Regions from separate parts of the Homo sapiens genome. Here region 2 is linked to region 1. Evidence: fine-mapped QTL for protein levels in blood plasma. Region 1 holds a variant in brackets. A gene starts in the other region. All regions are shown on their reverse strands.

Region 1 (8,337 bases):
CACTCGAGTGACATCCCTGGTGTATACACTGGAAAAGCGATAATAAGCAGAGCGTGGACCACTCCGGATCTCACTGTCGATGGCCCTCTCCCAGCCCTGCACTCCCACAGAAGTTGGGTAAACCTCTGTCAAACACCCATCAGACGTTAATGTCACATTAATTTTGCACATGATGGTCTCTCCTTCTAGAATTTAAGTTTTTTAAGGGTAGGGAATGTATCTTCACCCATTCTTGTATTCCTTCAGGCATTCATGTTATCAGTCAACAGCATTTACTGAGCACCTGCTTTATGCCCAGGCCCTGCCCTAGACCCCGGGATGCAAAGATAAATAAGATATAGCCCAGGCTCATGCCTGTCATCCCAGCACTTTGGGAGGCTGAGGCGGGTGGATCGAAAGGTCAAGAGATCGAGACCATCCTGGACAATATGGTGAAACCCGTCTCTACTAACAATACAAAAATTAGCTGGGCGTGGTGGTGCGCACCTGTAGTCCCAGCTACTCGGGCGGCTGAGGCAGGAGAATCACTTGAAGCCAGGAGGCGGAGGTTGCAGTGAACCAAGATCGCGCCACCACACTCCAGCGTGGCGACAGATAAATAATATACTGTCCCTGTCCTTGAGGCTCCCAGTCCAGTGATTGGTAAATAGATGTTTATGACTCAGCATGACAAATTCAATAATAGAAAAATGCAGAGGACAATGTGAGTTAAAAGGAAGAAGCATTTTCCCCATTTCAAGAGGTCAAAAAACACATCACAGAGAAGGAGGTTTCTAAACTGGGCTTTGAAGGATGACTAGGAGTTCTTTGGGCCAGAAAGACATTGCAGAAGTGAACACGTACCAACATCATTGATAAAACCTCAGCAATTGTTGTGGTTCCTGGCACATAGAAAATTCTCAGGAAAAGTTGCTGAGTTGTACTAAGTGAGAATATCGTGACTGACGGAAACCCAGTCCAAGGACTGGGGAAAGAGGGCCCCATCCTAGCTCCTCTGCCTCAAACCTGGAGACACATTGAAGTCATTTGGAAAGTGTGAGAAAACACTGATGTTCCAGTGTCACTCCCCACCGCCCCCACCCCAGAGATCCTCATATAATTGGCCGGAGAGGCTGCCTGGTCTTTGAGACTCTTAAAAGCTCCCCAGGTGATTCCAATAGGCTGCCTTGTTTGAGAACCACTGATGTAGACCAGTGCTTCTCAAACTTAATGTGCAAATAGATGCAGGCAATCTTGTTAAAATGCAGATTCTGACACAGCAAGATGGGCCTGAGAATCTTCATTTCTAACTAGCCCCTGGTAACACCGCTGCTGCTGGTCCTGGGACCACCATTTGAGTAGCGAGGCTCTCTGAGGCTTAATGCCCAAAGGCAATTCAGCTGGCCTCAGCAATGTGCCTGCATGCAGCGGTGATATTCCAAATCCGAAGGGAAGGGTACATGTGGGGGCACCAAGTGCCCAGAATGGATGTAGCGGCCACAGGTCTGAAGGCTCTGCTGCCCCTGGTGTGAGTTAACTTAGTTGTGGGTGGGGAAGATGTTAGGGGGAGGGCTGGGCAGTCAAGGCCACAGGGGGTGCCTGGGAGAGGTGGGGACAGCAGCCTGTTTACCCACCTCCCTGTTGTAAGAGCTGACATCGAATACCGGTGTCTACCAGCTGGCTGTCCCCCCACCCACGGCCTGCACCCAAGGCCGAGGAACAGCCAAGAAGGCCTGGCGAGCAGCATCCTACGGAGAGGACAGCGAGGAGGCCGCCTTGGCAGGAGCTGCCTGCTGGATAAACATTGTTCTGTTTTTTTCTTTTTTCTCTTCAAACAAGCCCTTCTCAGCACTGGCCACATCATCCTAAACAAGGCCTCTCAGTGCTGTTGACACAAAGGCAGAGACGGTGTCATTCCAGCCCAGAGATAAAACTCGGATCCTCCCACAATGGTGGGCACTTCGTCTCGGGAAGAACACCAGTGAATCAGGAAATTCAGCAAGCTGGGTCTAAGCCCTGCCCTCAGGCTAGGCTCAGGTTTTTTGTTGGTTTGGGTGGATTTCTTCCTCCCCAAAGCTCTGCTTGTTTCATGTGCCTGGTCAGCAGATATGTCAGCCCCAGACAATGGCCTCTTTCTGCAGACAATGGTCAGCATGAGGAATGTCGCAGGAGGGCAGGGCTTGGGGAGGGACAATCCCGCTTTCAGAAGTCAGTGGCCGAGTGGGTGCTGCAGGGAGGGTCCTGCTGTCACCAGGGCAGCCTCCTCAAAGGCACCATTTATAGGACCTGCAGCCCCAGAAAAGTGGAAGCTTTGGGCAGCAGCAGAATCAGAGAGCAGCTCCCTCGCCCGCTGCTCCCGGCAGACTCGCCCTGCCTGCTTTATCGGCCTCCCGAGGCTCCTGCAACCACAATTCCTACCATGCAGACTTTGTTTAATGAAAAAACAAATAGTTACCCCCAAATTAGACCGAGGCCTGCTGTTCCCTCAGCCGCGCCTCCTGCAGTACCCAGCCTGTGCCTCATTGGCCGGCTCTCCAGAAAAGAAAGGGCTCATTCATCCCCAAAGGTGGAAACTCGCCTTCTCCCAGGGAAATTGTGTAACCGTTTTGTAGTGGAACCGACTACAGGCCTCAAGGTCTTTTGCAAAAAGAAAAACAGATAAGGGGGCGGTGGCGGGAGCCAATGCTGGCTGTCTTAGATTTGCTCATTGCAGAATGATTTTCTGACAGAGATCATAGGCCCACAAGTCACATCAGCTGGTCCCTGGATTTCAAGGATCCTCACTGTGATTGGAAAATTAAGTGATAGCCATGCATGCATGCATTTATTCATTCATTCCTCCAGCACAATGTATGGCACATAATAGATGCTTAGTAAACATGTGTTGAATGAATGAAATGTTTTGTAATATCTGATTCTATCTCTCCATGCTCAGAAAACCTTCAACAGCTCCCTATTGCCTATATTATCAATTTAATCTTTCTTAGCATAGCTTACCACTTGTAACTGGACCCTCAAATACCTCTCCAACCCTACAACCTCCACATGCTCCCAATCCCACCCCTCCAACACGCACATATGCTGCCTACTGTTTCTTGAACCAAACCATTGTTGTGTGAGCCTCTAGGCCTTAGTCCCAGCTGTCTCTTAACCTCAAGGCCCTTTCCAAGCTTCTTGTAGGGATCTGGTGAGTTCCTCTCCCATGAGACTCAAGCCAGTGTTTACTCCTCCTCTTAAAAGCCATCGCTAAATATAAAAAATTAGCCGGGCGTGGTGGGGAGCGCCTGTAGTCTCAGCTACTCAGGAGGCTGAGGCAGGAGAATGGCGTGAACCCGGGAGGCGGAGCTTGCAGTGAGCTGAGATCGAGCCACTGCACTCCAGCCTGGGGGACAGAGCGAGACTCCATCTCAAAAAAAAAAAAAAAAGCCATCGCCAAAGTGTCAGGCTCCATAGCCTCACTCTTGTTCATGGCCCTATCATGACACTTGCCACTCTTCCTTCTATCTTCCTGTTGCAACCATGCTGTGCACTTCTTGAGAGTGAGAACTGAGTCTGACTTACCTCCATATGCCCAGTGGGGGCCCAGGGTCCAGTCCATCATAGATCCTCAGTAACTACAGAGACCAACTAGTCCTGGTTTGCCCAGGACATTCCTTGTCTTAGCACTGAAAGTCCCACATCCCGGGACACCCCTTAGTCCTAGACAAACTGGAACTGTTTGTCCTCACATCAGTAAATGAGTAGTGAATGAATAATGCCTAGGTCTCTATTCATTAGTTCATTCACTTAACACACATGTAGTAAAAATCTGTGAGCCAGGTCCCATGCTCATACAGTTAGAGGGTGTTTCTAAACAGCTTCATGGCCCAGCATTGCAAAAGGACAGCTCTTTGGGGTTGAGTTAGCCTCAAGTCCATGGGGCACCTTTCCTAGATTCCTGTTTATCTCCTCCGCTATCTCTTCCAGTATCCACACCACGTTGTTTACAATGCATCTGTTGACATCTGCCTTATCTCCCTGGATTTGCTCTGGGCCTCCCTGGGTCTACTGCCCTCAGAAAGGACGAGCCCTCTAGCCTGACAGAGGAATTCCTAGCTAAGGTTTTATAAGTCAAAAGACCCACACTGGAGCTTGGGTCCCAGGGCAGCCCCCAGCCCTGGGCCCTCAGAACGAGAGCGATTGCAGCCAGGACGCATGTGTCTGCCCAGCCGTCCTCAGACCCTGGGGCTGCTTGGACCCATCTGTTTCCCAGTTCTAGGTCAAATCAAGCTGAGAAAGGATCAGGCTTCATTTGACCTGAGATGGCTGGAGCATCTGGCTGCTCCCTCTACCTCCCCCACCCTGGCGAGATGAGCCTAAGTCCCCCATCCCCCTCGGTGGGCTCTCGGAGACGCCATCTTTTCCCTGGTGATTTCAGGGCTTCTGGGAAGTGTGACCCAATAGAGGCCACAAAGACAGACACATGTGGCTTGAATCCCAGCTCAACTACTTAGCTGAGTGGCTCTAGGTAAATTCCTTAACCTCTCCACGCTGTCTCATTTAAGCAGGGATATTGATAATGCTCACTTTGCAACATTGTTATAAAGACTATAGAAGATTTACCAGGTGTCCAGCTCCCTGTCCAGCGCACAGTAGGCGCTCCAACAAGCAAACAGAATCAACAACCATTTGCAGTTAGTTCATTCAGCACCTTAGAACCAGGCCTGTACCTTTTGGCATCTCGCTCTGCTAGAGAAGGGCTAGTATCACTCACCAAGTCCTTCCTTATTTAAGATGTGCTCCCCTCTAAGAGGAAGGCCCAAGCTGCAGAAGCTGCTTCTAACCAAGATGATGAATAAAAGTTGTTCCTTCAAATTGGAAAGTTCCTAAGAATCTTTGGTTAAC[G/A]AAGGACAAGAAAAACAAATATTAACAGATGGATTTCTTTTTAATCCGTGCGCTAAAACCGCACAATAGAAATGTTGAAAGTCTCCAACTGTTGATTTGAAAGCCCGGCATGAAGGTAAATACGAGGCACCTTGATATGTGACCATTTGGAGGTCACACTTCGAAGAAGCTATAGTCAAAAAGCCCTCTCCTTCCGCATGTTGAAATGATTTTCTTTCATCAAAAAAGCAACGGCCTGGCTCTCCAGGAAGCAGAGCCTGTGAGTTGTGTGCATAATGGACAGTCACCCTTTTAAAATACACATGAATTTAACCAACCTGCGTCATCCACGTTGCCTCCACTGCCTTTGCCTGTCATCTGGACAATTCTTAGCTCACCTTCCAGTTTCCACCTTTCCATATAATCTTAATGTCCCTATTTATTTCTTGCTTGTTTCTATGAACACTTTTTTTATTACATCAAAATTAATAGATTTGCACCACAAGAAGTCAGCACTACTGAACGGCAAAACTATGATATTTTTGGAAAGCCCCTCCAAGTTTTGCCTTGTTTCTCAGCAGTAGCCCTGAATTAATTACTTTAGGGAAATCTTTTGATCACAACTTTGCATGTATGTGTCTGGACTCACATACATTTAAGAATGTGCTGGCATGAGCGCACCCAGGCACATAAAAAGGATGAATATCCTAATGGTCAAGTCATTGTACAGCAGATGTGACACAGGCAACTCTGCACATCAATAGCAGGTTGCTTTCTATTGTATTCTATCTTTTTAAAAGTCAGGTTGGAGAAACACTGGAAATTAATTGGGATAGCCATAAAGACAACATTTGAAACATTACTGCACATGCCATACCCATTTTTCCCAATTAGTCTTTTGAAATATATGCTTTTATTCCTAATTTCTGAGTAATTGTCCACTTTGGAACTCCTACAAAGTGGGTAGGTATTTAAGAACCATGATGACCTATAACCTTTGACCCAAGGTGATCTTTACTGGGGGGACCCGTGAAAGATTGATTTGAGCAGAGCTGAGTTAGACAAACAAGCCATTCACATAACTTCAAATCTGGAGGCAAATCAGGTAAAAATGTGAGCAACCTTTGTGGCCTGGAATTTCCTGTCCCCATAGTTAGAAATTAGGACAATACTCCTAGCTTCGGCAAGTATTGATGAAGAAGTTTCTATATCTTCTTCAAATAGCCCCATAGAATGATCCAATAGGGCATCTAGGTCCCGTCAATGGCTGAGCTGCTTTCCTGCCAAATACCTTTGAAAAGGAACCCAAAGGGGTGCCTTTCACATAATTTAGAGCAACAGCTCTTAATATTTCCATCACAAGCACTCCTTTAAAAAAAAAATCTTTTCTCCAAAGAGCCCAGTTTTGGGGAGACTCTATTAAACAAACTACACTAACTTGTTTTCCAAATTTTCTGTCATCAAAACACAGGAAATTGCATGAAAGCTTCTGATGGAGTTGAGGTCACTGGAGCTGCCACATGGTGAGGACATGATTACAACCAGAGAAAAACTGGTCAGTGCTTTGTGCCCCGGTGAGGCTGAGTAAAGGCTTTTTTTTTTTTTTTTTTAGATGAAGTCTCTCTCTGTTTCCCAGGCTGGAGTGCAGTGGCACAATCTTGGCTGACTGCAACTTCTGCCTCTTAAGTTCAAGCAATTCTCCTGCCTCAGCCTTCTGAGTAGCTGGGACTACAGGTGCACACCACCACATCCAGCTAATTTTTTGTATTTTAGTAGAGACAGGGTTTCAACATGTTGCCCAGGCTGGTCTCAAACTCCTGAGCTCAGGCAATCTGCCTGTCTCAGCCTCCCAAAGTGCTAGGATTATAGGTGTGAGCCACTGCGCCCAGCCTAAGGCATGATTTTAGCTACCTTGGGGCAAAATGTTTAACTGTCAATGATCATTCCAGAAGCCTTGGCATGGAGGAGCCCAGGCTGGGAACCCCTAACCCTGAAGCTTCATCGCCTCCATTTCTAAGCCCATGTCATGAGAACAAGGTGGCAGAGAAGGAGGGTGTAAGAGCCAGATGGAGGCTTTGTTTGTTTTCCCTAAAGTGTTATTTATTGTTAAACAAAGGAAAAAATTTGACATTAATGAAAATTTTAAAACAGAGAAGCATCAATAGTAATCCTGTGACCAACGTTTTAATTTTCTTCTACAACGTTTCCAAGCTTTATCCACATGTACACCCTCACTATCTGTGGATTCCATACTTGTGAATTCACCTACTTGCTAAAATGTATTTGTAACTCCAAAATCAATACTTGTGGCACTTCTTGGTCGTCCACAGACATGCACAAAGTGGCGGAAATTTTGAGTAGTTCCACACATATGTTCCCAGCAGAGTTTGAACAGGACAAGTTCTGCCTCCTTGTTTCAGCTCACATACTGTAAATGAGCATCCCTTTCACAGACTATTTAGTGCCCACGTTTTTTGCATTTTTGTGCTTTCTTTTGGAAATCTGTCTGTTTTAAATGGCTCCTAAGCATAGTGCTGAAGTGTTGTCTAGTGTTTCTGAGTGCAAGGAGGCTGGGATGTGCCTTACAGAGAGAATATGTGTTAGATGAGCTTCATTTCAACATGACTTCAAGGGCTATTGGCCATGAGTTTCATTTTAGTGAATCAACAAGATTCTGTCTTTGGATAGAAGCCTGCATAAAATAAAGTCATGAATTAATCAACTAACAAAACATTATAACCAGAGGCTCTCAGGACTCTGTGTTCCTCCTGGAGGCAATGGTTCAGCATTCACTAATTCAGTGTTCATGGCGATATGGTTTGGCTGTGTCCCCACTGAATCTCATCTTGAATTGTAGGTCCCATAATCCCCATGTGTTGTGGGAGGGACAAGGTGGAGATAATTGAATCATGGGTGCAGTTTATCCCATCCTGTTCTCGTGATAGTGTGTTAGTTCTCATGAGATCTGATGGTTTAATAAGGGGCTTCCTCCTTCACTGGGCACTCATTCTTCTCCTTCCTGCTGACATGTGAAGAAGAACATGTTTGCTTCCCCTTCTGCCATAATTGTACATTTCTTGAGGCCTCCCCAGCCCTGCAGAACTGTAAGTCAATTAAACCTCTTTTCTTTATAAATTACCCAGTCTAGGGTATGCCTTTATTAGCAGAATGAAAACAGACTAATACAGTAAATTGGTACTCAGAATGGGGCACTGCTGTAAAGATACCTAAAAATGTGGATAACGGGCTGAAGTTGGAACAATTTGGAGGGCTCAGAAGACAGGAAAATGTGGGAAAGTCTGGAACTCTCTAGAGACTTGGAGGGCTCAGAAGACAGGAAGATGCAGGAAAGTTTAGAACTTCCTAGAGACTTGAATGGCTTTGACCAAAATGCTGATAGTGATATGAACAATGACGTCCAGGCTGAGGTGGTCTCAGACGGAGATGAGGAACTTGTTGGGAACTGGAGTAAAGGTCACTTTTGCTATGCAAAGG
Region 2 (8,337 bases), not on the chromosome of region 1:
CTCCCTATGTCTGGTTCACAGCCTTTCCAGTGCCTGAGGTGCAGAACACTGCATATGCTAGAATGCTGAGGATCCTGCCACTTTGCTGGGTCCAACTGGCATTTCACTGCTGCAGCCCCCGGTGGTGACAGCAGCAACTGTGCCACCAGCAGCAGTGGGAAGAGCCTTTTCTCAAGGTGTGTGCACTTACATGCACTGCTGTCTTCCTGCTGGGTGGGCGGGTTGCTGTCAGTGCTCACAGGTGTAGCAGGGCCATCCATCTCTGCAGAGTCCCATCTGAGGAGGCAGGGTCACTGCAGGACCAATTATTAGACCATGCACAAACTCAGAGTTGTTGTGGCCCAAGCAGGCTGTAGTCCTGGGGGTGGGCCCACCACAGGACCAGTTTTCAGGCTGGGCACCAGCATGCACAGGCTCAGCAGACTAGCTGGTTGTGAGGTGTGGGTGCATGTGGGTGTCGTGGCTAGTAGGCAGATGGGTGGCTTCCCTGCTGTTCACTTCTTCCCTGGATTGGTGGTGCACCACATGGGTTCGGATGCCGGGGTCTTGATTAGTTTATCTGGCTAGGCTCTGGGAAGCTAGGGTCATGGTGCTGCAGATACCTGTATGAATGTGTTGGAATGATGGTGGGGCCTCAAGTGATAGAGAGCCAGGTGCTACTGATGCTCAAAGCAAGACACACTCTCTATGTAGGTTCAGTTTGGAGATGGCACTGAGCCATAGCACCTTACATTGCAGGGGCAGAGGGTGCTCAAGGTGGTCTCTTACTATGTAAGGCAATGCAGTTTGGAAATCCCAACTGCTCTCCAGACTGGTTTTTGTGCCAGTGAGAACAGTGGGGCAAAGATTGTTGACATTTTTTATGGCAATGTGGACCACTGGGGAACTACAGCTTACTTTTTCCTGTAGAATGGAGTTACTGATGACCCTGAGCCAACCTTGACTGAAGAGAGAGTATGTCAGAGGCAGGATGCTATATTGAGTTTCTGTACTTCACAGAGGTGTTTCTGTTCCCCTGGTGGTCTCCAGCATACTTTTTAAATCACACTGGCTGACATAAAATTGTTTGTTTTCTTGATTTCTTTTTGTGGGGAAATGAGTGCCAGGGAACTCTAGTCAGCCATCTTGCTGATGTTCTAAATTCTATTTTTAAAAGATCACTCTGGCTGTTGTAAGGAGAACTGCTTGGGATGTGGTGAGGGGCAGGAATGTCACCAAGATCAGCTGGAGACTGTTGAAAGTCCTCCAGGAGGGAGAATCATGGCTTGACTCAGGACCTTCTGATAGAGATTATGAAACTGATCATATATGGGATATCTTTTGAAGGTAGAACCAATTGGATTTGCTAAGGGCAGTACACGGAGGAGACTAAACAATCAAGAGTGACACTTATGTTTTTGAATGGTTGAGTGAAACAAATGTCATGAACTGAGAAAAGATTGTGAGGTGTTATCAGCTAAATTGTGTTCCCTCCAAACTCTCATGTTGAATCCCTTACCCCCGATACCACTGAATGTGACTCTATTTGCAGCATGGCCTTTAAAGAGGTGATTAGGTTAAAATGAAGCTGATAGGGTTGGTGCTAATCCCATCTGACACCTGTCCTCATAAGAAAAGAACATTAGCACAGACCACAGAGGGGTACCAGGGATGCACGTCTACAGATAAAACCCCATGTGAAGATACAGCAAGAACCGGCCATCTAGAAGTGAAGGAGACAGGGCCTCAGAAGACACCAAACCTGTTGACACCTTAATCTTGTACTTCAAGCTCCAGAACTATGAGAAAGTAAATTTCTGTTGTTTAAGCCACTTGTGGGGCATTTTTTTAGGGTAGCCATAACAAATTAGTATGAAGGAGAGCAGGTTTTAGGAAGTAGAAATCAAGAATTATATTAGGGGTATGTTAAGTTTTCATCTGTTGTAAAAGGCAAGTGGATTGCTGAGAGTGTCCACTCACCTACAAGTGCCTAAGCTCCTGCTGCAGTCCTGCTTCTCGATTTGACCCCACCCTCACTCACTGACAGTGTCTGTTTCAGCTCCTCCGTCACCTCTGTTGTGGTTGTGTGTGGTGAGATCATAGCTGATGTTTATTATTTCCTGATACATTAATCTCTTTCTCTCATTGCTTACACTGGAGAATGTCAGGGTAAGGGTCTGAGCTGAGTGATATTTGCAGGCATCACCTGTTGTCTTCCTGCACTCACCAGCCAAGGAGAAGCCTGCCTTCCACCAGGACTGCAGTTTCCTCAGCCACCCACACAGTGAATCATGTCTGCATGGCACGCCCCTCTGCTCCTTCTCGCTGACCTTCCTTTCCTACCTGATGGTCTACCATAAGCCACCTAGGCAGAACTACTTATCTCCACTTCCCATGTTAAACAGTGTCTGGTGAAATCAGAGGCAGCAATCCTAGTAACACAGCTGGGTCTGTAGGCCCAAACAACTACTCTCTCTCACCCATAAAACCCTAAAGCACAGCTAGAACTCTTCTGCTTCCCACATAGAGAAGAATTGCTAACTCATAATATATTTCACCTTCAAAATATGTCCATAATTATGCCAGAGAAAATATTTATTTTTTGGTCACTTTGCCAAAGTAAAGTTATCCATAACAAACACCATTGATTAGAAAATCTTCCTGTAATATTACCTCCAACCCTTCAGAATTGCCAGACCAGACCTTCATCTGCACAGCACAGGATCCACTTATCCACAATGGTCAAGAGGCCTGTCTTTAAGATTTCCAGTCACATTCCCCCGACCCTGTCATACTTCCAACCAAGCTATCCTCAAATTATCACCAGCCCTGTACAAAAATGTAACAATAATACGAGACCTATACAATGCCTGTAATGAAAAGTGGCAGCTGGTGATACTGATTGATCTAGGGGTTCCATGAAAATATAAGCAGAAAACTACTAGATAGGACAGAAAAATCAGCAGGTGAAGATTAAGCTACCAACTCAGGACCCTACCAAACTTTTCAGAAACACAAAACCTTGGTGCCAAATTTTAAAAACAAAAAAGAAGAAAGCAAGCAAAGAGAAGTACAGAACCTTGTTTAGAAAATCAAATAAAGATTTCTCCCAGAACGCATGAAGAAAGCAGTAAGATATAAAACATAGACATAGGGAGGATTGATTCACAATATAACATATCAACAAGTAAGGTTCAGCACAAGAGTGAAGAAGAATGAGTATAAGAATATTGCAGAGAAAATAATCTTTGGTAAAGGCAATCTGAGAAGCAAATAGAATGGAAACTAATTAAAAAATAGAAAATCAATGTAATACTTGAGGCTTTCAACAGGCTATCATACTATCTAATTAGATTGTATTATTGTGTCCACTCAATAACCAGTGTGATTAAAATATTTGGTACAAGAAGTAAGACCTAAACTGAATCATATAGAACATTCTAGAAAAGAGAAAGATCATGGAAGAAGTCTTAGGGACATAAAATAGCATGGCTTGTTCAAGGAACTGTGTATTCACACTGTTCTGATGCAGAAATCTAATGGTGCTTTCTGTGGCCAATTTTGCCTTACTAACCTCCAGGGTATTAATAAAGATAGAATGTTTTAATACCTGTGTTCTACAACAATAAAGTATCTCTGGTTAATGCTAGATTAGGAGAATCTTAATCTCTTTGGGCCAGAGTAGCCTGAGGGTAAAACTTCTGTCATCCACGTGTGCCCAAGTGTGTGTTGTCCTCACACAACTCAACATTAAACAGAAATGATCTCTATATTATTATGAAATTAAGCTACATATCATCCATATAGGTATATATGCTATAAAAATGGAATTTATGCTACACTAATAGCTAGAGATATTAATCATTTTCACTTCTGGCTATAAGATCACTGCTGACAAACATATACAAACGTAAGCACGTGTGCACACAGACAACCAATGAAGGGGAAAGACTAACTGTCTAACCCAATTGAAAATCAAATGATGACCAAACTTCAATTGTAGTATTTGTGCTGATTGCTTGGATACTGTTTCTTCAGAAACTATGCTCAAGTCACAGTTTGTACCTAACCACATCCTACCACCACATCCTGCTGGGCTAAAATCCCAAAAAGTAATAAGAGACGCATTCAACTTTATGAGAGGAAAGCAAAACCTAATCTTTCAGGTGGTGAGGTCCACCCAGTATGGAGCTCAAAGGTGCCATTGTTCTGCTCATGTTTATAAAGGGAGCTGCCATGTTTCTCTCAACGCAGAGTTGGGAGCAACTCCAGAGCCTCCTTCAAGATGCTGCTGGTCCTGCTCTCAGTGGTCCTTCTGGCTCTGAGCTCAGCTCAGAGCACAGATAATGGTAAAAAAATTATTTTTTTAAAAAAGGAGATGGGGAGTGGGATGAGGGGCCATGACTCTTCTAGGGCCTCAGGGGTTCACCCTACACCACTGCAGCGGAAGAGCAGGAGGGGAGGAAGGAGGTTGAGAAGAAGGGTAGGGCTTTGGAGCTCTCATTCCAAGGATGACATCTGTTGTGCCCTCATTCCATGCCAAGGCCTTATACTTTATTTGATATACACTTGGAACCCAATAGAGAATTTCAATTAGAGGAATGACAAAGTAAGATTTGTATTTTTAGAAAGACCTGGCTGTGCTGTGAAGGATGCAGTGGAGAATGCAAGACTGATCCAGGGAAGTCCAGCTATGAAGATGCTACAGTAATCTCAGTGGACAGCGATGATGGTGTCCTTGCTGTACAGGGGATGCAGAATCAATGAAAGAGATAAACAAACATCAGAGTACTGTCAGACATAGAGGACTGGATAATACATTTGTGTCTTTCTACATAGTGGTATAGAAATATCAGGTCCCCAAATTCCCATTTTTCTTCCAATCACATTTAAAATTTCAATATGTTGCAGGCAGCATGTGTAAGATTATATCCAAATATTTACTCCTGGTTGCTCCTCTTGGGCAAGCTTGTGAATATGATCAAAATATTTAAAGAAGGAAGAAGGTAAAGATCTAAAATATGACATGAAAATACCCAGAGAAGTGTGCCTAAATTAGCATTAGGGTTTGAGGGATCCTAAGGATGACAAAAAGGGACTCTTCTATTGAATTCGTGGTTGATGCTCAGCGATAGTAACAATCCTGCCTCCCCTAACATCTTCCTCCCCTTCCAGCAGCTTCACAGAACATGGTTGATGAGGTAACTTAGGGGATGCACAGGGTGTGGCCAGAAGACCCCTTTCCCTATAGACCACTATGAGCCCTGAAAGATTTATGAGGTAATGTTCACTTCATCCTGTGCTTCTTTTCCTAGATGTGAACTATGAAGACTTTACTTTCACCATACCAGGTAAATCCCAATGATCCTCAATCCAATTCTTTTCTTTCTTTTTCCACTAGAATTTCTTTTTAGTTTCCTTCAGTGTCTTCTTCTCATCATTTTTTTGGGAGGAGGTGGTAAGAGGGGTCAGGCATTGATTAATATTAGTGCCCCTAAATATATAGGCAATTCTTACCCATCTTTGATTCTGGGGACCATGAGCCAGGCCACCAACTTGAATACAGAGATGCCTGGCTTTGAGGACAATAGGAGTGGGCAGGCTTTTTTCCCAGGCTGGAATGACTGCTGAGAGATGATGAACAAATGAGAAGTGTTCTCATTCTGACTCCTCCATCCTTAACTGCTTCTTTCTTCCCCCAGTGTTCCCCCGCACGGTTATGTGGCTTCAGGGAGTAACACAAAACAAAACAAAAAAATCACTGCATGAATGTCTTTTCTCTGTGTTGACCCACTCAGCTGTGTCACTACAGATGATAAATAGTTGCCACAGCTGTTTAGTGATCATGTGCAGGCTTTCACATTGTCTTTCTCTTCTGTCTCTTAGTATTTCTCTACTTGGTTCCAGGAGCCTGGGAAATCAGCTCTAGTTTCCACATAGGGCTTAGGTGCCCAGAGATGGAGTCACAGTTTGTAAGTCATTACAGCAACCAAAAAATAAAAATAAAAAATAACCAGTAACATAACTGAAAGCTATAATGCTTTTGCTTTTTTTTTTTTTTCTGTCCTTGGAGACATCCTCTGGCAACTCTAAGATATGCAAGAACCCCTCTTTTCATTTAAGGAAACATACTTGTCACAGGAGCAAATAAATGAGACTTTCCATATCACTCTTACATGGATTAAGTTGAGAGCTGCATAAAAAGAAAAAAAAAACAGTGGGCACAAAAGAAGTTGACAGTCAAGCAGCAGGTTTGGGGAGAACAGGGCTGTGTGGTAAGGTGAGAGAAGTATAAAGAGAGGAGAGTTTTTCTTCACTGAGCTCATGCATTCTTGTCCATTAATTACTCACACAGATGTAGAGGACTCAAGTCAGAGACCAGATCAGGGACCCCAGAGACCTCCTCCTGAAGGACTCCTACCTAGACCCCCTGGTGATAGTGGTAACCAAGATGATGGTCCTCAGCAGAGACCACCAAAACCAGGAGGCCATCACCGCCATCCTCCCCCACCTCCTTTTCAAAATCAGCAACGACCACCCCGACGAGGACACCGTCAACTCTCTCTACCCCGATTTCCTTCTGTCAGCCTGCAGGAAGCATCATCATTCTTCCAGAGGGACAGACCAGCAAGACATCCCCAGGAGCAACCACTCTGGTAATCTAGAATTCAGTGGCAGGTATGATTCCAGTTCATTCTCCATTAAATGCCCAAACTGCTACCATTCCCAAACTTTATCGTGTTCACAAATCAATTGGAAATATGTTGAAATTACATAATCCTGGACCCCATTTCTAAAGATTTGTATTCAGATATTCTTGGATAAGGTTGCAAGTCCTTGTATTTTTAACAAGTGGTTCAAAGAATTCTTATCTTTTGAAATACTGACCTCCCCAACTTTTTTCTTAAGATGACTTGTCTCATTAAAATGAGTTGGTAATGAGGAAGTGGGGTGTGCTCTCCCTTTGGTGCTCTGCCTCCTGTCTTTGAGTCTGCCTTCTCAAACCCAAGGACTCTCCATCTCAGGTTTCTCTCAGGTTTCCGCCAGAGGACTCTTTGCTCAGTCCTGCCTCACACTAGCCTCTCAGGTCCAGTGTCCCTGCTAAATGATACTTGAACTTGATGCTCTTATATCTTATTTAATTTTTAAAATACTTATTTTGAAATTAGTACATGCTCAAGGAAAAAAAAATCTAACTGAACAGAATGGTATGAAGCTAAATCTTAAAGTGACGCCTTATCCTACTTACCCACACCCTTCACCAAAAGTCACCACCCTTAATTTTTTGAACATCCTCCTGGAAATATTTATATGTATATAAGCATACGTCATTATTTTTCCCACAAATGACATATTATTTTATATGCAGATCTGTATTTGCTTATTTCAAATAATACATGTCTTAGACAACTTTATCATTTCACGGAGACCTATAGATCTTCTTGGTGATTTATTTGTACATTTTTCTTTTGTTGTTACAATTGTATACTATTCTCTTGTGTGACTGTACCATGATTTCCTCAGTCAACCACTGTTAATTGATATGTAGGCTTGTATTAGTTTTTCACTACTACAGGTTCAAGTTGCAGTCATTTTCATAAATATAACCTTGAATGTTTTGAACAGTAACCAAAACATAAACACCATAAAAAAATCTGTTTTCTTAATCTTGAAAGCAATAATTTACTTCAGTAATATCATCAAGGAATTAGATAAGTTTTGCCATGTTGTATGTTGTGTATAAATTTCCTTGGTTTTTTTTTTTGTTTCAGAAAATAAATAAGAAGATAACTTCCTTCAGAAAGCCATGACATTGAAATAATGTGGTCATAACTCTTTCTTCAGTATACCAATAAAATATTAATAGCATGCAATTTCTGATTGTTGCTTCTCTTTGTGGGTGTTTCTGAGTCTAGAATTTGAGGGCCATTAATACAATCTAAGAATATCTGGGACTCTTGCTCATTGATGCTTCCAGCAGGCTTCCCTCCTCCTTTATCTTAATAAAGCCAGCTGCCAAGGAGAAAGAGTTCCATTGTTCCCCTTCTGTCCTAGATTGCATAGCACAAATGCAAATTCTTAAAATTATTTTTACATCTTTCATTGATATTCTTGTAACTCTAGGAAAACAAGGAATATATAACAAATGAGAGGGAGTTGCAAGTGCTGGGGAATTCTTAAAATTTCCAAAACTATTAATCCTGGTTTCTAGGGGCATAAATGTAGTTCTAGATCTCTTCTCTATAAAACTCACTATGCTCTTTTCTCCTCTTTTTTCATTGCTCAGCTCTCTTCCTCCCTAAGTCGTTCACCATTCTTTTTAAAAACTTGAGTGGATTTCATAAAGGGTGCAGCATA

Which allele goes with the higher level. Positions count from the first base shown, and alleles are read on the strand shown. Strength reflects both the effect of a copy and how common the allele is.
For the plasma level of the protein whose gene starts at base 4,227 in region 2, allele A in region 1 goes with a higher level than allele G (weak association).

The links. PIP is the posterior inclusion probability: the model's chance that the variant is causal. Protein levels are from antibody-based Olink assays in UK Biobank. Linkage for the fine-mapping came from a reference panel and not from the study's own genotypes, which makes the PIPs less certain.
Region 2: it holds the start of PRR4, and the variant in region 1 is fine-mapped to the plasma level of the PRR4 protein (UK Biobank, PIP 0.93).

Annotation. Positions count from the first base shown.
Region 1 is chr2:16,063,974-16,072,310 of GRCh38, reverse strand. The region is part of intron 1 of GACAT3 (gastric cancer associated transcript 3); the gene reads right to left. Among named protein-coding and RNA genes, the nearest start is that of GACAT3, 18 kb to the right of the region's middle. The variant G/A (reference allele first, on the strand shown) is at 4,864.
Region 2 is chr12:10,845,365-10,853,701 of GRCh38, reverse strand. It overlaps PRR4 (proline rich 4), which reads left to right and starts at 4,227. Exons shown (of 4, transcript NM_007244.3): 1 at 4,227-4,328; 2 at 5,295-5,330; 3 at 6,335-6,657; 4 at 7,752-7,853. The coding sequence starts at 4,265. The coding sequence ends at 6,639. PRH1-PRR4 (PRH1-PRR4 readthrough) reads left to right here. Exons shown (of 10, transcript NR_037918.2): 8 at 5,295-5,330; 9 at 6,335-6,657; 10 at 7,752-7,853.